2 separate regions of the Homo sapiens genome follow, and region 2 is linked to region 1. Evidence: fine-mapped expression QTL. A gene starts in region 1. The other region holds a variant in brackets. All regions are shown on one strand. Distances are from middle to middle. Region 1 holds the start of RBFOX2 (RNA binding fox-1 homolog 2). Region 2 holds the start of APOL6 (apolipoprotein L6).

Evidence for each region.
Region 2: its variant is fine-mapped to the expression of RBFOX2 in subcutaneous fat (GTEx, PIP above 0.99). The same link has a PIP of 0.9 or more in tibial nerve.

What each region holds. Positions count from the first base shown.
Region 1 is chr22:36,023,681-36,035,552 of GRCh38, forward strand. RBFOX2 (RNA binding fox-1 homolog 2) reads right to left here and starts at 5,144. Exons shown (of 14, transcript NM_001349999.2): 1 at 4,560-5,144. The coding sequence starts at 4,745. RefSeq lists a silencer at 5,310-5,379 and an enhancer at 11,547-11,872.
Region 2 is chr22:35,641,339-35,653,210 of GRCh38, forward strand. APOL6 (apolipoprotein L6) reads left to right here and starts at 7,108. Exons shown (of 3, transcript NM_030641.4): 1 at 7,108-7,285. RefSeq lists an enhancer at 6,813-7,112. The variant C/T (reference allele first, on the strand shown) is at 5,601.

The DNA of each region.
Region 1 (11,872 bases):
CTCTCTTTAACTACATTTCTCAAACTGTACATCAGCTTTCCAGTTGAGTTTGTCACTTCCCTCCTACTCTCTGGTTCACGTTTCTCTATTTCTGTACTCTTTCCAGGGCTGCACTGACTCCTCTTCCACCTACATCAAGTTTCTGTATACTGCCTTTGAAAGCACCGACCCTTCCTCTCTTTCTCCTAGGGTTCCTTCTGAGCCTAAGGATTATAACAAAAGCATCACAGACTCTCTGGCGTTTCCTAAACTCCATTTTGGTAAGTGATGATTTACTCCAAAAGCTTAGTGGTACAACTTAACAAGATTCAACTTTGGAATCTAACGCTTAGCACTACAGCTCCATTTAGTAAGCAGCCTTGGGAATGACCCCAGTAAATGAACTTATTCTATAAAAAGCGGTTAATCCTTTGACATTCAAAGTGCCTGGAAAATTCTGTGATGATACCCTCACTCTGGAATTTCACAATTTTTCTTAATCCTTAACTATCTGTAAAAGGTAAATTTCAATTTCAATTTAACAGGCATTGAGCACTTACCAAGTACCCAAAACTGTTAGGTATTACGAAGGATAAATACAAAGGAAATATAGTTCCTATCTTTTAGAAGCTTACAATCTTAGCAGTGAAACAAGAATAATAAAACAATTAAGGGACAATAAAAGATGACACACAATTAAGCATCAATATACCAAGAGGCAAGAGTAGGATCGGAATGGTGTGAACTAAGCTGTCAGGGAAGGCTTCACAAAAGGAGTTAGAAAACGTGTTAAGAAAACAGGCCAGGTGCAGTGGCTCATGCCTGTAATCTCAGCACTTTGGGAGGCCAACGCAGGCGATCACCTGAGGTCAGGAGTTCGAGACCAGCCTGGCCAACATGGTGAAACCTCATCTCTACTATAAATACAAAAATTAGCGGGGTGTGGTGGCACATGCCTGTAATCCCAGCTACTCAGGAGGCTGAGGCATAAGAATTGCTTGAACCCAGGAGGCAGAGGTTGCAGTGAGCTGAGATCAAGCCACTGCACTCCAGCCTGGGCAACAGTGAGACTCCATCTCAAAAAAAAAGAAAAAAAAGACGTGTACTTTAAGACAAACCCACATACCCAAAACACTGGCTACGATAAGATTTTTTTTATTTTTTTGAGACAGATTTTCGCTCTTGTTGCCCAGCCTGGAGTGCAATGGCGCAACCTCAGCTAACTGCAACCTCCGCCTCCCGAGTTCAAGTGATTCTCCTGCCTCAGCCTCCCTAGTAGCTGGGATTACAGGCGCCTGCCACCACGCCTGGCTAATTTTTTGTATTTTTAGTAGAGACGGGTTTCACTATGTTGGCCAGGCTGGTCTCGAACTCCTGATCTCAGGCGATCCACCCGCCTCAGTCTCCCAAAGTGCTGGGATTACAGGCGTGAGCCACTGCGCCCGGCTAAGATTTTTAAAGTGTGTATTTACATAGGGCCTATAGATATTTCTAAACCACTGATACCATCTCCTAAGACTACCTGCCCTTGCTCTCTCTGCTCCAGCTATTAATACATTGGTCTCCTGTTTCCAAACAAACCAAGCAGTCTTTCTCAATGCCTGTGCACCCTCACCTCCTCTACCTGAACCCTCTTTCCGAAAGCATCTGAATGGCCCATTACCTCACTTCACTCATAGGCCATCTATCTTAAAGCCCTTCCGTAACCATCTTCATTCTCTCCCTTTCCATCTCTCCCTTTCCCTGCTTTTTCTTTTTAGCCCTTATCACCACACAATTATAGTTGTTGATTTATTAGATGTCTCTTTCCATTCAATATTAGTTCCATGACAGCAAGGGTTTTTTGTTGTTGTTGTTCACTATTATATCTCTTAGGGTTAAAACAGTGCCTGGGATGTAGCAGCTGCTTAATAAATGTTAGTTCAATGAATAAACATTAAGTATATTCATGTAATACTCTCACACTTCTTTAAAAATGCACGCTTCTTTAAAAAAAACTTTTCGCCCATTTGTCTCCCCACATAGATTGCATGCACCTTAAGGACAGTGAACTGGACTTATAACTTTTAGAAGGTAACTTAGAACTTGGCCGGGTGCGGTGCCTCACACCTGTAATCCCAGCACTTTGGGAGGCCGAGGTGGGTGGATTACAAGGGAAATCATCTTGTACACATACTTTATTTTACAACTAAGGAAAACAGAGGCCCCAAAATGAAAGATTTCTGCAGAACCATTCAGCTAGTTGAAGGCAGGGCCTAAATCAATGATTTGAATACCTGTATGACATAGGGGAATGGACCTACAACAATGGGAATGTATAGAAGGCCGGGTGTGGTGGCTCACACCTGTAATCCCAACATTTTGGGAGGCTGAGGTGGGTGAATCACCTGAGGTCAGGAGTTCGAGACCAGCCTGGCCAACCTGGTGAAACCCCCTCTCTACTAAAAATAAGAAAAATTAGCTGGGCATGGTGGCAGACGCCTGTAATCCCATCTACTCAGGAAGCTGAGGCAGGAGAATCCCTTGAACCCAGAGGTGGAGGTGGAGGTGGAGGTTGCAGTGAGCCGAGATCGTGCCATTGCACTCCAGCCTGGGCAAAAAAAAAAAAAAGAGAATGTATAGAAAGAAAATAAAATACAAGAAGTGAAAAAAGGATTCTCGGAGGGATAACTCTCAGCTGCCAATTTGTACCCCCAAGGACCTAACCACTCTTTCCTCTGCACACCCCTGCGAAGTCCCTACACACTGCTCCATTTCCAAATATCACTATCTTTAGCCAGTTTGAAGGCAACCAACAGATAATAGGCCCCAGGAGTAAATGAGGGAAAGGGACGGGGGTCTCACTATTAACTAGGATTGACAGAAATGATAAATGAATACATACACACACACACACACACACACACACACACACCAAGTAGAACCTGCTCACCAGCACCTACATCCAGTCTTCCCTCCTTATCATCCAATATTAGCTCACCTCACCTGAAGTCTCCCACATTCCTGTCTTTTTTGCCATGGCCCTGAGCTTTTACTTCTCACAATCCCTCTGCCTGACAGAGTTCTAATGGAAAATAAAAGCAGGCAAACAAAACAAAAGAATTCAAAAATAAACACCAAGAGGGTCACTTTACCTAAATCAACAGAAGTAACAGGGTAAACTCTGCAAAGGAGACCAAGAAGCATACAACAAACATGCTAGGCTTAAGTACAGCTCTGTCCCTAACACAGGAAGTCAGGCAGAGGCTTGAAAAGCAGGGAGCAGAGCACAGGAAGTCTTTTAGCACTGCAGAGATTTCCAAGAGTGGTGTAATGGAGACAGCACAGGAATAGGAATTAGAAGACCAGGCTTCTAGTTCTAGTTTTACTATTAGCTAACTGGGTGGCCTTACCCAAGTCACCATCTTCTCTGGACTTCTGATTCCCCATCTATAAAATAAGGTGGTTAAAACAAGCTGGGACTTGAATCTCCTCCAAAAAAAACAAAGATGAAAACTATTGACTCTCCTCCACCAAAAAGTGCACATCACCTACTATGAGTAAGAATCTTCCAAGTCTTCCCAGGTTAAGAACCCCTGGAAAAGATGATGTCTAGTCCTCCTAGCATCCCTCTAACATCCTATGACTCCGAGAGAATTAGGCACAAGTCTGCACAACTGTTGGTAGGTGAGACTCATCATGTCATAGCAGTATTTTCTGGGCAAAGACCAAATCGTAAAACCTCCAAAGGTTTCAAGGTCTTCTTCAAAACTATGAAGTCAGCTGACATCAATACCTTTCCCATTCCCTACCCAAATTAACCACGTTTATCTTTCAATCCAGAATTGAGAATCCAGTCTTCTAATAGCCCTATAAAAAAATTTTTTTTATAGCCCGGGACATTAAAGAGCTATTTTGTGTCCTGGTGATGTAGAATGCAATTGGCAAAGAACAGGAGGGACATGTCTAGTGTCTCCCTTCAGACTCATTAGTATGCTCCACAAAGTAAATGAGACTGAGCACCACCGTGTCCCCATAACATTACCAAACTCCTTGTACTTCTCACACTCTGTGTGATTTAACCCACAATCTCAGCCACATCCCCTCGGGGCTCTCTCGAGGAGTTTTCTTTTCACTCCTCTCATTGAAATGCCACTTCTCTTCCCCATCCCAGCGTGTGCCCAGGGCTGCCAAAAGGTACTCCCTCTTCTCGGGAGGTTTCCCACCAGATCTCCTTTTCCTCGACTCAGTCCAGAGAAGCCAGGATTTCCCGGCTTCCACTCCACCCCAAGGCACTAAGGAAGGATTTGAAAAAATGGAATCCATCTCAACCTTGTTCGATTTCCCCCCAAAACCTATCCACTCGTCGTGCCTCCTGGCCCCTCAGGAATCAGGACCCTCTCGGGCACACCAGGTTCAGTCCTGCAACCTTCGTTCCTAGCCCGAGCTCGCCCCACCTTCCAACCAGGCCCCGAATGGCCCCCCATCCCACCTCCAACCCAGGACTCCCGGAGGCCCTCCCTCTCTCCAAGCCGGGGAGCCCGGTGTCGACCCTCACGCCCACCCCCGCAATAACTGGGCGCCCCGTCCCGCGCGGTCACCTGCATCCCGCCGCCACCGTCGGCCGCCGCCTCCTCAGTGCGCGGCCGCTTGCTCAGGCCGGGATCGGCTCCGTCTCCTCCCGCTCCGGGCACCGGCAGCTCCAGCTCCGACTCCCGCTTCATGCCCCGGGCGGCGGCGCCGGGCCCGAGCTGAGGCGGCTGATGCGGCTGGGCGCCCTCCGCCATCCGCCCGCGCCCCCCTCGCCTCCGGGAGCCGGGCGACCCGCGACAGGCCACCTCCCCCTGGGCCTCGGCCCCGACTGTCGCGACAGGCGGGCGCGCGCCTGCCCCCGCCCCCGCGTGCGTGCGTGCGTGCGCGCGAGCGGACTCCGCGCCCCTCCGCGCCTCGCGGCCGCCGCTCCTTGCCTGACCGCTTGCTCCCCGCCCGCCCGCCCGCCGGGTTGTCGGCGCGGGGCCACTGGCGGGTCGTGATGAGCACTCGCTCGCGCCCCCGCACGCACACGCGAAACCCGGCCCGGCCCGCCGCGCCGCCCCGCCTCTCGCACTCCCGGAGCTCGCCCACCGGCCGCGCTGGCTCACACTCTCCCTCACAGCACGCCGGCCGAGGGAGGAAGGGGGCGGTCCGGGCTCCCGAGGCGTGGGGAGGGCTGTTTATTTTGGGGGGAGGAGGGGCGCGAGGCAGGAACGAGCTGACTGGCCGGGATCCTCCGACCCGCCACTGTGGCAGCACCGGGAAGGCGGGGAGAGAGAAAGAGGGAGGGAGGGAGGGACCGGGATGTAGAACTCCAGCCCGCGCGGGAGGCTACGGCGAGGGGGGCGGTGGCGGCCCGCGGGGGGGGCGGGGCCAGGCCCCCTCGGCAATCTCCGTAGTCTCCTCGCTGGCTGCCCGAGGGAGGCCGGGAAGCGATCGGGGAAGCTCGGGAATCTCCGGCACGGGCCTGGGATTGTCCTGGAGGCACAGCGCGGCTGGAGTGCGGGGCAGCGCGGGGGGGGCGGGGTCTGTCTCCTTTCTGGGCGGGGCCGTATCCTGGAGCAGGCGGGGCTTGAGAGACCCGAAGGCCAGGGAGTGGCTCCTGCTTGCGGTACTAGTTGTACAGAGTTAAGTCCTGAGTTTACTCGCCTGAGCACCTTGGTTCCCGGAGAGGGAATGGGCACTCTGTGAGAGGCAGGCTATTTGCCTGCTTCCCCTCCCGCAGAAGAAAAAATGTCTCAAATTGGAAGGTCGAGGAATGAAGCCACCCCTCTATGGTTCACCCCAGTTCTGAGAGCTTTTACTCTAATATAACTCACATTCCTAATGAAGTTAGTAATAATACCCGATGTTTGTAAGAGCTTTAGAGTTTGCACAATGCATCCACAGACCCGTTTCAAACTGGTGATATAAGTAGATACCATGATCTCCATTTCATTGATGATGAAACTGAACCTTAGTTAAATCCTGCAGCAAAAAAGTGGCAGATCCGGAATTCAGAACACGAGAACATATTCTCTTTCTTCGTACCTTGCTGCCTGAGGAGCACTTTATGACTTACCAACTTCGTGGAGATAGAGATATCTGTGCAATAGATTCTCTCCCCTACCAGACTGTGAGGACAAGGACTGCAGTGACTTCCTCTGAGTTCCATATCGTGCCCTGTACGTTATAGAAATAAAAGGATATTGCGTGAATAACCTGGATTCTAATCTTGGCTTTGCTAACTAGCTTAAACAAGTTACTTCATCTCTTTGGACCTCAGCTCCATCATTTGTAAAATGAGATGGTTTGGATCAGTGGCTTTCAACCAAGGAGAAATTTTGCCATTCCACCACCTCCACTCCCACATTTGTCAGTGACTGAAGGCATTTTTTTTTTTTTTTTTTTTTTTTTTTTTGAGACAGAGTCTCGCTCTGTCGCCCAGGCTTAAGTGCAGTGGCGCGATCTCGGCTGACTGCAACCTCTGCCTCCTGGGTTCAAGCGATTCTCCTGCCTCAGCCTCCCCAGTAGCTGGGACTACAGGTGTGCGCCACCAACTAATTTTTGTATTTTTAGTAGAGATGGGGTTTCACCATGTTGGCCAGGCTGGTCTCGAACTCCTGACTTCAGGTGATCCGCCTGCCTCGGCCTCCCAAAGTGCTGAGATTACAGGAGTTAGCTGCCGCGCCTGGCCGACTGAAGGCATTTTTGATTGTTACAGTGGGGAGGTGCTGCTGGCATCTAGTGTGTAGAAGCCAGGAATGTTGCTTGACATCCTATCATGCACAGGACGGTCCCCCCAGGAGAGTTATCCAACCCCAAATGTCAATAGTGCGGAGGTTGAGAAACGCTGGGTTAGATGATTTCCAAGGTCATTTCCAACCAGTGTGTGATTTGGCCTTTGAACCTGGGTTTAACCTGGCTGGGGCTGGAACAGTACAACAGTAAAGATCCCTGCTTCAGAGTCAGACCAACCCAGATGAGAACGCAGGCTTCCCACCTCCTGCCCACGTAATCTGGGACCAGTGGTGACTAAGAACTTCCATATAAAAGGTGTTTGGGGATTGCAGACTGGTTGGAAGGGAAGTCGGGAGGACTTGCCTTGAAGGTGAGTTGTTGTATTGAGCATATTGTTTGTATTACTTAGGCTGTGTTATAAATCAGTAAAAATAGCAGAGTTTTAGCTCTGCCACCTGCAAGTCATGATGCCTTGTGACAGCTACTTACCCCCTCTGTGTCTCAGTTTCTTCATCTGCAAATTAGGATAACAATAATACCTTCCTGAAAAGATTATTGTAAGAATTTAATGTTATCACGTTTAGAACTTTGAACGGAATGATTTAGGATAAGCGCTCCATAAGTGTTACAGCTAACACTTATAGCTAACTAATAATAGCTTATTAGTAGTACCATTATCACTTTATTCACTTTTTTTTTTTCAGATGGAGTCTCGCTCTGTCACCCAGACTGGAGTGCAGTGGTGTGATCTCGGCTCACTGCAACCTCCACCTCCTGGGTTCAAGCAATTCTTGTGCCTCAACTTCCCAAGGAGCTGTGATTACAGGCGCCCACCACCACGCCCGGCTAATTTTTTGTATTTTTAGTAGAGACAGGGTTTCACCATGTTGGCCAGGCTGGTCTCGAACTCCTGACCTCAAGTGATTCCCCCCCTTTGGCCTCCCGAAGTACTGGGATTACAGGCATGAACCACCAGGCCTGACCTTTATTCACATTTTAAATGAGAGTGAAAAAACATTCATTGTCAAGATCAAAGAATATCATTATCATTATTATTGGGTTTTTTTTAATTATGTAAGGTGACTTGAGTGGGGCTGCTAGAGATTCACATGCGGCAAGCAAAGCACCCCAGTAACCCCTTGGTGCAACCACTATGCTGGGCAAATTACTTTGTTTCACTAAGCCTTCCATTCCTCATTTGTAGGATAACAATAATAGTCACAGTGTTGTTCTAAGGATTAAATGGGACAAAAGTAAACACTTAGCACAGTGCCTAACATAGTAACTGCTTAATAGGTGGTAATTATTCATCAACTAATTTGGTTAGTGATACAGTAAGCTTAACCAGGGGCCTTGGAAAGAGAAGCCTTAAACAACTTCTTCTTCTTCTTCTTCTTTCTTCTTTCTTCTTTCTTCTTTCTTCTTTCTTCTTTCTTCTTCTTTCTTCTTCTTCTTCTTCTTTTTTTTGAGACAGGATCTCACTGTCTCCCAGGCTGGAGTGCAGTGGCCCAATCTCAGCTCACTGCAACCCCCGCCTCCCAGATTCAAGCGATTCTCCTGCCTCAGCCTGCCAAGTAGCTGGGATTAGAGTCACGCACCACCATGCCCAGCTAACTTTGTGTATTTTTAGCAGAGACAGGGTTTCACCATGTTGGTCAGGCTGGTCTCAAACTCTTGGCCTCAACTGATCCTCCCGCCTCAGCCTCCCAAAGTGCTGGGATTACAGGCGTGAGCCACCACGCCCAGCCCTGACACATCTCTTAGTATTATTATTTGGACCACCAAGGTGGAAGTCCAAGTGCCTACAAGCTTGTTCTTGTGCTGAATTAGCCCCAACCTAAGTCAGCGGTTTCCACTTGGCAGTACCCCACAACCTGATCCTGTTCAACCAAGCAGTATGGCTTTGAGGGATAACCAGGATATTTCCTGGTGGCCTATGAAACAACAGCGGGTTTTGTCTTTTTTTTTTTTTTCTTTAACCTAGGGACATCAGCAGTTGGTCTTCTGAAATTTTTACTTATTGAACTGGTAGCATAAGAATTCTCCCTTCCCAACTGGGCATGGTGGCTCACACCTGTAATCCCAGCACTTTAGGAGGCCGAAGCGGGCAGATCACTTGAGGTCAGGAGTTCAAGACCAGACTGGGCAAAATGGTGAAACCCCATTTCTACTAAAAATACAAAAAATTTAGCCAGGTGTGGTGACAGCTGCCTGTAATCCCAGCTACTCAAGAGGCTGAGCCAGTAGAATTGCTTGAATCTGGAAGGCAGAGGTTGCAGTGAGCCGATATCGCGCCACTGCATTCCAGCCTGGGCTACAGAGTGAGACTCTCTCTCCAAAAAAAGAGAATTCTCCCTTCCCTGCTTGCCTTGCCAAACTACTGAAATCTTAATGATGTTAGATCTTCCTGGGCTGTCCCCTGACCCAGCAAGAAATGAGATTTGAGATCGGGGCTGCCAGTGACTCAAATTTTTGTTATTCAGGTAACGCTCAAGTCCCTTAGAAACAGAGCAATGCAGTATAGAAATGTCTGAATGACCAGGCAGAACAAAGAAAAATTGGACCCTGCCCTGGAAACAAGCATTATGTATTTAAGGAGAAAGAGGAGAGTTAAACGCCTACAAATCATAGAAGAGGCAAAATGCATCCATGGCAGCACAAAGACCAGATCATTTCTTTTCTTTTTTTTTTCTTTTTTTTTTTTTTTTGAGACAGAGTCTTGCTCCGTTGCGCAGGCTGGAGTGCAGTGGTGCAATCTTGGCTGACTGCAAGCTCCGCCTCTCGGGTTCACGCCGTTCTCCTGCCTCAGCCTCCCGAGTAGCTGGGACTACAGGCGTCTACCACCACACCCGGCTAATTTTTTGTATTTTTAGTAGAGACAGGGTTTCACCATGTTAGCCAGGATGGTCTTGATCTCCTGACCTCATGATCCGCCCGCCTCGGCCTCCCCAAATGCTGGGATTACAGGCGTGAGCCACCGTGCCCGGCCGATCATTTCTTTTATATACATCTGCAGCCATTTGTTTAGAAGCAGGTAGTTAGGAAACATTACAGAGGAAGAGGACATTAAATATTTTCGGTCACTGGCTCATGCCTGTAATCCCAGCACTTTGGGAGGCCGAGGCAGGCAGATCACCTGAGCTCAGGAGTTCGAGACCAGCCTGGCCAACATGGCAAAACCCCGTCTCTACTAAAAAATACAAAAATTAGCTGGGTGTGGTGCCGTGCACTTGTAATCCCAGTTACTCAGGAGGCTGAGGCAGGAGAATAGCTTGAACTCAGGAGGACAGAGGTTGCAGTGAGCTGAGATCATGCCACTGTACTCCAGACTGGGTGACAGAGTGAGACTCTGTCTAAAAAATAAATAAATAAAAATATTTTCCTAGAAAGAATTTTTAGCTGCAGAAACTGTTGCAGTTCTAACATTTATTCACTTATTCATTCAACAAATTATGGGCAAGTGTCTGGAATACCAAGATGACAAAAAAAAAATTATTCTTAGTCCCAAAGAGCTCACAATCTAGGGAGGAAGAGATGAACAAATCCAAAGACAATTGCAATGCATTATGATAAGGGAGTCATCTCTCACAGTGGCCAAGAACATAGACTCTGATGTCAAACTGACATGGGTCTGAGTCTGACTTTGCCATATATCTTACCTTGGACAAGACCTTAGCATCTCTGAGGCCTGGTTTCTTCATTTATGTGACAGGCACTGGTAGTTACCAACCCAATATCCATTCTCCTCTTACTCCATCCTAGCAGAACCCCAATTTTGTTCAGGACAGAAATCTGCTTAGCAATTAAAAAAAAAAAAAAATTCTCTGGTTCCCTGAAAGCTAAGGGTGGCCACGTAACACCATCCTAGCCAGCGAGATGTGGGTGGAAGATAGCATTCCTTCCTAGTTAATAAGACAAAACCGCTGGGCATGGTGGGTCACGCCTGTAATCCCAGCACTTTGGGAGGCTGAGGCGGGTGGATTACCAGAGGTCAGGAGTTCGAGACCAGCCTGACCATGGTGAAACCCTGTCTCTACTAAATACAAAAAATTATCCAGGCGTGGTGCTGTATGCCTGTAATCCCAGCTACTTGGGAGGTTGAGGCAGGAAAATCGCTTGAACCCGGGAGACAAAGGTTGCAGCGAGCTGAGATTGTGCCACTGCATTCCAGCCTGGGCAACAAGAGGGAAACTCTGTCTCAAAAAAAAAAAAAAAAAAGACAAAGCCACAAGAAGAAAAGAAGAAAAGGCTCTTTGCCCTTTGTCCTTTGCCCTTCACCCTTTCTCCTGCCTGGAACACACACCGGAAAAACAGCAGACATCTTGTCTTCAAAATAGCAGAAGCCACATGCTAAGAATAGTACTGCAGGGAAGGGTGGCTCATGTCTGTAATCCCAGCACTTTGGGAGGCCAAGGCAGGCAGATCACTTGAGGTCAGGAGTTCGAGACCAGCCTGGTCAACATGGCGAAACCCCATCTCTACTAAAAATACAAAAATTAGCCAGGCGTGTTGGTGCAACGTGGTCCCAGCTACTTGGGAGGCTGAGGCATGAGGAGCGCTTGAACCCAGGAGGCAGAGGTTGCAGAAAGCTGACATCACACCGCTGCACTCCAGCCTGGGTGACAGAGCAAGACTCTGTCTCAAAAAAAAAAAAAAAGAATAGTATTGTAGATCCACCATACCAGCCCGAGCCTGTCTATGCTAATTTATTGTTATTTGAGAAAAATAAGTCCTCATTTGGTTAAGCCACTGCGGACAGGTTTCAACATGTGGCCAAACTCAACTCCTAACTGATATGATCTATAAACCAAACACAATAATAGTACCTCCCCTGACATTCTTTTGACCACTAAATAATGCATGTAAAACACTTAGCATGACACCTGGTTCACAAACACACTCAATAAATGTTAATTTAGACCCTTTTACTACGCTATTGCATCTACTATCTTTATTAATATGATTATTATATATGCCAAAAGCAATAGGGGTATTACAGAAAGATGTAACTCCGTCTGCCTGGGGGAGAGAGAACAAGTTTCACCCAGAGTGTTACATTTGACCTGGCTCTTTCAAAATGAGGAGGAATTTCCCAGGGAATGGTTTCTGATAAAAGGTAGTAAATTCTTGTGTGCCCTTTCCATGGGCTTAGAAGAGTTTG
Region 2 (11,872 bases), 380 kb before region 1:
CCTAGCAATGGGTAGAGAGGTGGGAGAGCTTAAGCTCATTGCCACTGAAGCTAAGTCCCTTAGATAAGGCAGGGGGCCAGGATGAGAGTGAGGGAAGACACTGAGAGCAACAGGAGGCAGCCAAAGGACCAGGCAGATGGGGCAGGTCCTTGGTGAAACCCTACCTTCAAGCCAAAACACAGCCTGAAGGCTGAAAGACCAGACTTCTGGTCCTGGATGAAACCCTCAACCCAGAGTGAGAACATCTGTTCCTGTTTGCCCACCCTTTCCCGATTGATTCTTTCTGAATAATGCTTTGTAGCAGTGGAATGTTGCCTTTTCTAATACTACCTACAGCCTGCCCCTCCCCCATTCTAAGCCTATAAAAGACCAGACTCAGCCACAGTGGAGGAACTTTCCTGCCTTTGGATAGGGGGGCCACCCACGTGTCACCTCTCCACTGAAAGCTGTTTCATCACTCAATAAAACTCCCCACCTTGCTCACTCTTCAATTGTCAGTGTATCCTCACTCTTCTTGGGTGCAGGACAAGAACTCGGGAACTGGTACACAAGCCAGACTCAACCACGGTGGGCCGACTGAGCAGGCCATCTCATGCAGCAGGTAGCATGGCCAAGAGAGGCCCAGGTGGGGCATTGCCGGCCAGAGGTCCCCGGCTTGCAAAGTGACCAAGAAAAAATCCTGTGTCAAAACCAATGTATATTTTTTGTGATTGGCCTTCTTGGGATGCAAGGGGCAGTCTGAAAAAACAATCCACAGGGCTGGGGAGCAAATAAGACTTGGATACAAAGCGACAGAGATGCAAAATACTCTTTGAATCATAGCATCTCAGCAAGAATCACAGAATGGTAGATTCTAAGGGTCATAGGATCACAGCCAAGAAAAGGACCTTGACTTATCCAGGGAGATCCCCTTGTTTTGCAGATGTGAAAATGGAGGCTTAGAGAGGGAGGGGCCCTGGTGTTTCAAGGGGAGCCTGCCCTGTCCCACACTCATTCCTGAAGGCTGAGGCTCCTCCTGCTGGAAGACACTCCCTTCTGGAGCATCATGAGGTCACAGGGGATCCCTGGCTAGCCAGCCAGAGCCCAGCTGCCCACACTTGCAGGGGAAACAGCATGTCCATAGCCACAGTGGGAGCAGAACTAGGTCTGCTGCTCCTCAGTGGCCTGGTGGACTTTCATCCCTGGCCACAGCAAGGCTTCCTGGAGCCACAGATTCAGATGGCCTGTGGACTTTCATCCTTGGCCACAGTGAGGCTTCCTGGAGCATGTCCAGCAGTTCCCTATGTACAGACACAAAGCCTCTGGGGGAGATAACACCATCTTCAGCCCAGCAAAGAGGGAGTCCCGATGGTCGTGGAGGGCAATTGCCAGAGGGGCCCATTCTCTGTGATGCATGTGGAGTGATGGGAAGCCCAAGCCTAGAGAGGTTATAGGAAATCCTAACATGGATTCTTCTAGCTGGAGCAGAGTGGCTGCTAAGCCAGGGTACTCAGGGCACCCAGAGGCTCCCACCTTGGAAGACCAGCTGCCAGGAACATGCCACTTCACAAAACGCTATCGGGGGTCTCTGGGCCACATCAGAGGTAGCCAGCCCTTTAATACCTGACACCCCCTCCCCCAGAGAGGGCATTCGCCAGCTGACTCCTACAGAAGAGCACCCCTTTTATTGGGTACCCTTTTTACCTCCCTCCAACCTCATGGCTCAGTGAGGACTTTCTGGATACTAGAATACTGCTTTTGTTATCGGAGAGGTAATGTAACCTGGACTGAGGGATCAGAGAACCAAATAACCCCAGCCACAGAGACCAGTGGGATATGGAACACAGGTTAACCTAGAGAGACCTTTCCAAAGAATTTTCTTACTGGATCTGGTGGGGAAAATGCTCTTGCATCTCCAATCCAGGAACTAGAAGGACATGAATTGTAATAGACTTGAAATTCTCTTCTTTCTGTTATGGAAAAAGCCCACCTGTAGTGGGACAGAATGAGGCTGGAAGAGAGAGAGAGAAAGAGAGAGAGAGACAGCGAGAGAGCTACAGTGGGGCTCCTGGTCCCTGAACCTGGAGCTGCCTGAAACCTTCTGGGTTTTCCTTTGATTCTGTGAACAGGTCAGTAGCTCTCGAGCATTCTATCTGTGACCCATTTCACAGTGCAATCCATAACACACACACACACACACACACACACGTAAGTGTGTGCATCATCACTATATGGACATAATTTCCATGAAACACTACTTATACCCTTATTATGTATGATATACTCTGATATTTTTTACTTTATCTCATTTCATTTTCTTTCTTTCTGTCTGTCTTTTTTTTTTTTTTTGAGATGGTCTGTCTCCCAGGCTGGAGTGCAGTGGCACAATCTCGATCACAGCTCACTGCAGGCTCAACCTCCTGGGCTCAAGTGATCCTCCCACCTCAGCACCCCCCATCCCCCATCCCCTCAACACACACACCAGTCTCTAGGACCATAGGCGCACCACCACACCCGGCTAATTTTTGCATTTTTTTGTGGAGACAAGGTTTCACCATGTTACCCAAACTGGTCTGACTCCTAGGCTCAGGCAATCCTCCAGCCTCAGCCTCCTAAAATGCTGGGATTACAGGCATGAGCCACCATGTCCAACCTCATTTCCCTTTATTATTTCTTGAGACCCACTAAGCTGATTTCATGACACTGTAAATTGTGACTTGCAGTATAAGAACAACCAAGCTGGATAAATGGCTTCCTTGTTTTTGCTTACACTGCTCCAAGATGATGTGTCACTTGCAACCTGCTAACCAAAATGCCAACTAACCTTGCCTCTTGCACAACCTGTACCTCCTGTTCCAGCCCCTGCCCACCTCCACCCCACCCCTGGCCAGGCTACCACAAGGAGAGCAGTTTGCAAACTCACTGATCATTCAGCCACAGAGCAGAGATGTGGACTTCTGTGATGTGTTTTAGTGCAAAGAACTGGAGGTAGACACATTTGGGTTCTACGCCTAACCCTAGTCATGTCAGACACTGTGATCTTGGATGAGGTCCTTGGACCCATGAACATCAGTCTTGGCAGCTATATATTGGGCTTGTGCTCCCTGCTTCATAGAAGGAGCATATGGATAAAATGCGATGATGAGTGAAATATTCCGAGCACGTGCTCCACATGTAACATTCTGCACATGGAAGTTCCCATCCCTCCAACCCAGGATGCCAGACATCTTCATTTTTAATCCAGGGTAGAAAGAAAGAGACATCCCCTCTCTCGCTCTCTCAGATCTCTCATGAAAGATGAATCCTTGGGGCTGGGCGCGGTGACTCATGCCTGTAATCCCAGCACTTTCGGAGGCCGAGGCGGGTGGATCACCTGAGGTCAGAAGTTCAAGACCAGCCTGGTCAACATGGTGAAACCCCGTCTCTACTAAATATACAAAAAAAATAGCCGGGGGTGGTGGTGGGCGCCTGTAATCCCAGCTACTCAGGAGGCTGAGGCAGGAGAATCGCTTGAACCAGGGAGGCGGATGTTGCACTGAGCCGATATCGTGCCATTGCACTCCAGCCTGGGCAACAAGAGTGAAACGTTGTCTCAAAAAAAAAAAAAAAAAAAAAAAGATGAGTCCTGTGTATACAAAAATGGTAATGATGGCCAGAGCACCTGGTGCGTGCATCAACCTTTACCATTGTCAAGATAACTCATTCCGCTGGGCATGATAGCTAACACCTATAATCCCAGAACTTTGGGAGGCCAAGGCGGGTGAATCACCTGAGGTCAGGAGTTCAAGACCAGCCTGGCCAACATGGCAAAACCCCATCTCTACTGAAAATACAAAAATTAGCCAGGCGTATTAGCACATGCCTGTAATCCCAGCTACTTGGAGACTGAGACAGGAGAATTGCTTGAACCTAGGAGGCAGAGGTTGCAGTGAGCCGAGATCGCACCACTGCACTCCAGCCTGGGCGACAGAGCGAGACTGTCTCAAAAAAACAAAACAAAACAAAAAACAAACGAACAAAAACCTTCCTCACAAGAACCCCGGGAAGGAGATGGGATGGAAGTGGGTGAGGGTTAGTTGCTGTACGCCAAGCAACAAGGGTGTGGCCATGCGAGGCCTGGCCCTTTTGGTGGTCCTGGGTTCAAGTTCAGTGCTCCACTCTCCCCTTGTAATGGCTGCTTCCCTGCTTCGCTCTGGCCTGGGCTCCCAGGATCCTGAAACTGCTTCCAGGCAAAGCAATGGAGGCCACGATAGAACTTTTGCTACATTTGGCAAATTGCAGTCTCAGGGCAGCATTTGCTCAAACTCTAGGCAACCTCCGCCTCCTAGGTTCAAACTCTCCCTAAATGCTGTAGCCAGAGAGAAGAAAAGAAATTTCTAGAATCCAAGAATTTCAGGGTCAAAGTGTGCTTCAAGGCCTTTCCCCCATCCCAGGACGGATGGTCCCTGCCTGTGCCAGGGGCCACTGGGCCGAGGCGTGATGAGCTCTCTGGGAGGCAGACAGCCTGAGCCCAGAGTGGGTTGGTTGTGGCTGCAACACAGAAAACCTGCAGCTCCTCAGAGAGGTGCCAAGGCAAACCAGAACCCAGGTGTCCAGGAGCCAGCAATGCCTGCTGGAAGGGTCACAAAGGACCCTCTTTGTGGGCCAGTGGAACCCCAGAGGGCCAGCACAAGCCCCTGCCCCCAGGTGCCATCTCCGAGGCATGCAAATTTCTTTCTTTTTTTTTTTTTTTTTTTTTGAGACAGGGTCTTGCTCTGTCACCCAGACTGGAGTGCAGTGGTGCAATCTCAGCTCACTGCAGCCTCAATGAGAGGCAAACTTTTCAGAAAACATAAAAAGCCCTGATAGAAAATTTGAACTTAAATTGCCTGAACATTCACCCCCAAATGAGAGACTTTACCCAAAGATGTGTGTGTGTGTGTGTGTGTGTGTGTGTTTGTTTGTTTGTTTTTTTGAGACAGAGTCTCGCTCTGTCGCCCAGGCTGGAGTGCAGTGGCACAATCTCGGCTCACTGCAACCTCCACCTCCCAGGTTCAAGCGATTCTCCTGCCTCAGCCTCCCGAGTAGCTGGGATTACAGGTGCCCGCCACCACACATAGCTAATTTTTGTATTTTTAGTAGAGACAGGGTTTCACCATGTTGGTCAGGCTGGCCTCAAACTCCTGACCTCAAGCGATCCACCTGCCTCAGCCTCCCAAAGTGCTGGCATTACAGGCGTGAGCCACCGCGCCCGGTCCGAGAGTGTGTTTTAAATCACAAGAGACTAAGGGGCCTTCAGGCAAGTTTGTTTCTTTTCAGCAGGTCTTGGGTCCCTTGAGGGAAGGGAAGTGGACTCTAGGAAATTAAGCGACTCCCTACTTTTGTTCATCTGAGCTATAGGGTGGATGTTTTCTGTCCCCTTACATAAGCAGCACTTCCTGCATTTGGCTACAGAACATTTTTCTCACATGGCATCTCTTGGGGCGATTGTTTCACAAGAGCCCTGGTGGTAAACACTGCCCCCATCCAATGGCCGGTCTGGCCCCTGAGACTCCCAGGACCGAGCAGTGACCACAACATCTGGGTCCGTTGCCAGGGAAAACAACAGGCAGGCCTGGGATGGCTCAGCGGCCCCAGCCAGG[C/T]AGCCAAGTCCTCCTCAAGGTCAGGCTGTGTTTAGCGTGTTCCCCAAGTGTGGGAGGCCAGGAGCAGGGGTGGGTTGTGGAATCCGGGATGCCACGGTTGGAAAGGCCCCTACAAGACCCAACTCAGCAGCCCTTAACCCCTCATTCCTGCTCGTAGGGCCCAGGGACAGGAGGTGGCCTCTATCACAGCAAAGCCAGGACTGGCTAGGTGGGCCGCACCTTCTGCAAAGCAACAGCCTCCAATGTGGTCTCAGCTAGGGGTGGTGACTGGGGACTTCTGGGCATATAAATACAAACAAACCACATGGCTTCTGATCACAATTTGACACAAATGCTAGAGAGACACAGATCTCAGCCCGTAACCTCACTGTGGGCTCATTCTTGTAGACACAGAGCCTAGGACTGGTTCTTAGCTGTGTAATCACAAACAACCCACAACTTCTAGAAGCCTGGGTTTCCTCTTCCTTAAAGTGGGAGACAGAGTATCACAATCCTATATCTCCAATCCTTGAGGCCAGATGCATGTCAGAGTTCCTGATTTGGGGGATTTTTAGAAAGGTAATGGGGTGCAGGTATCGTGTACTATGTAACCCACGCACCCGCAGCAGCCCTCCTCAGTCAAACATATTAATATTTCTGCAGTGACTGTAAATATTCAAATTAAGCAGGAGACATAAAAACCACAGGTGAATTCATGCCAGATCAGGTCAGGTTTTGCCACTAAATGAATAAATTATCATTTTTTTTTAAGTTTTCATTCTGAGGCCAGGTGCGGTGGCTCACGCCTGTAATCCCAGCACTTTGGGAGGCCTAGATGGATGGATCATTTGAGGTCAGCAGTTTGAGACCAGCCTGGCCAACATGGCAAAACCCCATCTCTACTAAAAATACAAAAATCAGCCGGGCGTGGTGGCAGGTGCCTGTAATCTCAGCTACTAGGGAGGCTGAGACAGGGGAATAGCTTGAACGTAGGAGGCGGAGGTTGCAGTGAGCCGAGATCGTGCCATTGCACTCCAGCCTGGGCAACAGAGCGAGACTTCATCTCAAAAAACAATAATAATAATAATAATAAAATAAAGTTTCCATTTTCAGAGGATTCTGCATTCAGAGTTATTAGCCCTTTAATGCTGTGCACCTCATAGGGTTGTTACCCACATCAGCGTCACGTAAGATGCTGTGGAGGAAAGCAGTTTCAGAACAATCAGTGATGACAGCTACTGTGAATCCACTATTCAACAGGCGCCCCATCGCTTGCTCATGGGCTCCTCACCATAGCTCTAAGCCACAGGAGCTATTTTCATACCCCATATAGGTCCATCCTATAACACAGCCAGGACAGAGACGAGAGACTCAGGCCTCCTGACTTGGATTCTGCTCTTTCACCTCCTTGTTCATCCAATTAGAGAAACTGGCAAAAAGGAAACTGAAAGTGACAGCTGGAGCCCATGATTTCCTGGAAGAGCCCTAGAGCTTTGCTTTTTCTCTCCTGCAGCACTTAACCGAAACCAGTTTTGCAATCAATTCCTGTTCAAAGGCCACCCTACTCTTCCTATCCGTCTTTCTCCAGCCCAGACACTCACAGCCCCCTGCCAGACCAGGGGACCTCGGAGAGGCAAGGACAGAGGTTCAGGATCTTCCTCTCCCTCGGGACCCAAGGCCACAAAGGAGAGCTCCGTGGAGAGAAGGTGAGACGGCGGGCAGAAGTCGGGGGAGGAGGGGGCTGCCGCTCTGGTCCCTGAAGGACAGAGCCCCCAAGGGGTTGGCTTTAGGCACCTGACTCAGGGAAAAGAGCTGCTGTGAAAGCAGCGGGGTTCAAATGCCAGCCAGAGCTTGAGGAGAGTCTGAGGATTAACTTCTCCTGTGTTAATCCTGGTAGGTTTCCCTCCCTTACAGCCATTTCAGGGTTAAATTGAAACATGCTAAAGCATGCGATGTGACTAGCCAAGTTGCATTTGTCCCTCCACTGCTGGGGATCCGAGGGCTTAGGCAGAGGGGACCTGGCCCTTAGAAAGCAGATGATTACATCAGCCACAGGCGTTTCCCTAGAAATTCAGTAGAGGAGTGGTTTAGGGGTGTCATCTCACAAGAAAAAAGGTGCTGGGTGAGTTGTCTAGAAACTGCAAAGCCAACCTACAGAGTTTTCTAGATTGTAGATTTATGTGAAGTTGTTTGGGGAAGAGGGTGAGGGAGTTTGTGATAAATATTAGGGCGACTAGGCCAGGCGCAGTGGCTCATGCCTGTAATCCCAGCATTTTGGGAGGCTAAGGCAAGCGGATTGCTTGAGCCCAAGAGTTTGAGACCAGCATGGGCAACATAGTGAGACCCCGTCTCTACAAAAAATCAAAAAATAGCTGGGCGTGATGGTGCACACCTGTAGTCCCAGCTACTTGGGAGGGTGCTGAGGTGGAAGGATCACTTGAACCCAGGAAGTCAAGAATGCAGTGAGCAGTGATCGCACCACTGCACTCCAGCCTGGGCAACAGAGTGAGACCCGGTCTCAAAAAAAAAAAAAAAAATCTAGGGAGGTTATCTTGAAGCTGTGTTTTCAAAGTAAGCAGATTTTTCTTACTTAGATTGTGTATCTGCAGAAGTTGGTTTTGTGGGGGAAGGCAGGTAAGGAAAGACTGTCATAAATATCCTGTAAGCTTTCAAATGAAAGTAAGTTCTCAAATCCTCTTCCAATAAACCTCTCACAAGCAAATCCTCTCGCAACCACCAAGAGCAGGTCAGAGGGGATGGAATGGGACCTGCTTAGATGAGTTTCCTGCTGTTACCTTTGCCCTGCATCCCATAGGACTAATGTAAAAAAATGAGAGAGGTATTGGCGGACGCTGGTAAAAAATGGGGTTCCAGACCAGAGTCTCTTACCCCCAGCAACCTTGTCATGTTCAACCAGGTGATCCCTGGTTGTGGGGGCTGTCCTCTGCATCGTAGGGTGCTTGGCAGCATCCCTGGCCTCTGCCCTCTACATACCAACAGCAGTACCCTCTCCAGCTGAGACCATCAAAAATGTTTCCAGATATTAGCAGTGTCCCTGAGGAGCAAACACGCCCTGTTTGGGACCAACTACTCCAGACTCTGCGTGGCTGGAATTGCACAGGCTTTCCTGCTTACTGTGTGACACTGGCCTCCCTATGTCTCAGTTTGCACCTCTGTAAAATGGGCATCATCTTAGCACCGATCTCACTGGGTCACTGTGTAAAGCAGGTAGATGTATGTCTGGTGAAAGTAAACTCTTAAAGGTGCCAAGCCCCCTAAACCAAACCTAGCTTCACATACCAAAGAGGGGAGAAGGTTTTTATCTTTGAAGCATTCATTCTTTTTCATAGACTACCCCAAAGAAATAACCAAACATGTAGACAGACGTCTATATAAGGATTTTAACCAAAAATTATAAATACAAAATTTTAAAATAACTGAAAACAACCCAAAGGTTCAACAGTGAGAGAGTTATTGAATGTGTAATGATACATTCGTAAAATGAAATGCGACATGGCTTCTATGTATCGCCTGGGGAACTACTAAGATACAATGTTAGGTGACAAGAATTCACACAAACTACATGAACAGCATGCATTTCCATATGGTGAGCGTAAGGTGGATTTTATAATTTATTTCTAAATTTTCAACCTTAAACTTGTATTCATGGCTATAAGTGAATGAATGAATGAATGGCTATAAATGAATGGCTATAAAAATTTGTGTCCTGGGCTGGGCATGGTGGCTCATGCCTGTAATCCCAGCACTTTGGGAGCCCGAGGTGGGTGGATCACCTGAGGTCAGGAGTTCAAGACCAGCCTGGCCAACCTTGTGAAACCCCATCTCTACTAAAAATACAAAAATTAGCCGGGTGTGTTAGTACGTGCCTGTAATCCCAGCTACTTGGTAGGCTGAAGCAGGAGAATCGCTTGAATCTGGGAGGTGGAGGTTGCAGTGAGCCAAGATCATGCCATTGTACTCCAGCCCGGGCAACAAGAGCAAAATTCAGTCTCAAAAAAAAAAAAAAATTTTTTTAAAAATAAAGAATTTGTGTCCCTTCAGAGTGTGTGAGGGAGGATGTTTTTTTCTAACTTTTTAGAAGTGGAAGGGAAGAGGATGAGAGAAGGGAGGATGAGCTGAGGGAGAAGCTATATCTAGGAAACAGCATTTCTGCCGTAAGCGCTGGACCAAGTACCAAATGTAGAGAAGAGATGCAAAGGAATGTATTGGCTTCCCTAGGGCTGCTGTCAGAAAGCACCACAAACCAGGTGGCTTCAAACAACAGACATTTAGTGTCTCACAGTTCTGGAGGCTGGAAGTCAAAAATCCCAGTGCCAGTAGGGCGCACTTCTGCTGCAGGCTCCAGGGAGACCATCTGTGCCTTTTGCAGCCTCGGTGGCTTCTGACAGCACGACTCTAATTTCTGCCTCTGTCTGCGTGCAGCCTTCTTTGCTGTGTCTCTCTCTGTCACCTCCTCTTCTTATAATGACATCAGTGATGGATTTCAGGGCCACCCTGAATCCAGGATAATTTCACCCGGAGAAATGTATACATGTGCCATGTTGGTGTGCTGCACCCATTAACTCATCATTTAACATTAGGTATAACTCCTAATGCTATCCCTCCCCACTCCCCCCACCCCACAACAGGCCCCGGTGTGTGACGTTCCCCTTCCTGTGTCCATGTGTTCTCATTGTTCAATTCCCACCTAGGAGTGAGAACATGCGGTGTTTGGTTTTTTGTCCTTGCGATAGTTTGCTGAGAATGATGGTTTCCAGCTTCATCCATGTCCCTACAAAGGACACGAACTCATCCTTTTTTATGGCTGCATAGTATTCCATGGTGTATATGTGCCACATTTTCTTAATCCAGTCTAGCATTGTTGGACATTTGGCTTGGTTCCAAGTCTTTGCTATTGTGAATAGTGCCGCAATAAACATATGTGTGCATGTGTTTTTATAGAAGCATGTTTTATAATCCTTTGAGTATATACCCAGTAATGGGATGGCTGGGTCAAATGGTATTTCTAGTTCTAGATCCCTGAGGAATCGCCACACTGACTTCCACAATGGTTGAGCTAGTTTACAGTCCAACCAACAGTGTAAAAGTGTTCCTATTTCTCCACATCCTCTCCAGCACCTGTTGTTTGCTGACTTTTTAATGATCGCCATTCTAACTGGTGTGAGATGGTATCTCATTGTGGTTTTGATTTGCATTTCTCTGATGGCCAGTGATGATGAGCATTTTTTCATGTGTCTTTTGGCTGCATAAATGTCTTGTTTTGAGAAGTGTCTGTTCATATCCTTCGCCCACTTTTTGATGGAGTTGTTTGTTTTTTTCTTGTAAATTTGTTTGAGTTCATGTAGATTCTGGATATTAGCCCTTTGTCAGATGAGTAGATTGCAAAAATTTTCTCCCATTCTGTAGGTTGCCTGTTCGCTCTGATGGTAGTTTCTTTTGCTGTGCAGAAACTCTTTAGTTTAATGAGATCCCTTTGTCAATTTTGGCTTTTGTTGCCGTTGCTTTTGGTGTTTTAGACATGAAGTCCTTGCCCATGCCTATGTCCTGAATGATATTGCCTAGGTTTTCTTCTAGGGTTTTTATGGTTTTAGGTCTAACATTTAAGTCTTTAATCCATCTTGAATTAATTTTTGTATAAGGTGTAAGGAAGGGATCCAGTTTCAGCTTTCTGCGTGTGGCTAGCCAGTTTTCCCAGCACCATTTATTAAACAGGGAATCATTTCCCCATTTCTTGTTTTTGTCAGGTTTGTCAAAGATCAGATAGTTGTAGATATGCGGCATTATTTCTGAGGGCTCTGTTCTGTTCCATTGGTCTATATCTCTGTTTTGGTACCAGTACCATGCTGTTTTGGTTACTGTAGCCTTGTAGTATAGTTTGAAGTCAGGTAGCGTGATGTCTCCAGCTTTGTTCTTTTGGCTTAGGATTGACTTGGCAATGTGGGCTCTTTTTTGGTTCCATATGAACTTTAAAGTAGTTTTTTCCAATTCTGTGAAGAAAGTCATTGGTAGCTTGATGGGGATGGCATTGAATCTATAAATTACCTTGGGCAGTATGGCCATTTTCATGATATTGATTCTTCCTACCCATGAGCATGGAATGTTCTTCCATTTGTTTGTATCCTCTTTTGTTTCATTGAGCAGTGGTTTGTAGTTCTCCTTGAAGAAGTCCTTCACATCCCTTGTAAGTTGGATTCCTAGGTATTTTATTCTCTTTGAAGCAATTGTGAATGGGAGTTCACTCATGATTTGGCTCTCTGTTTGTCTGTTATTGG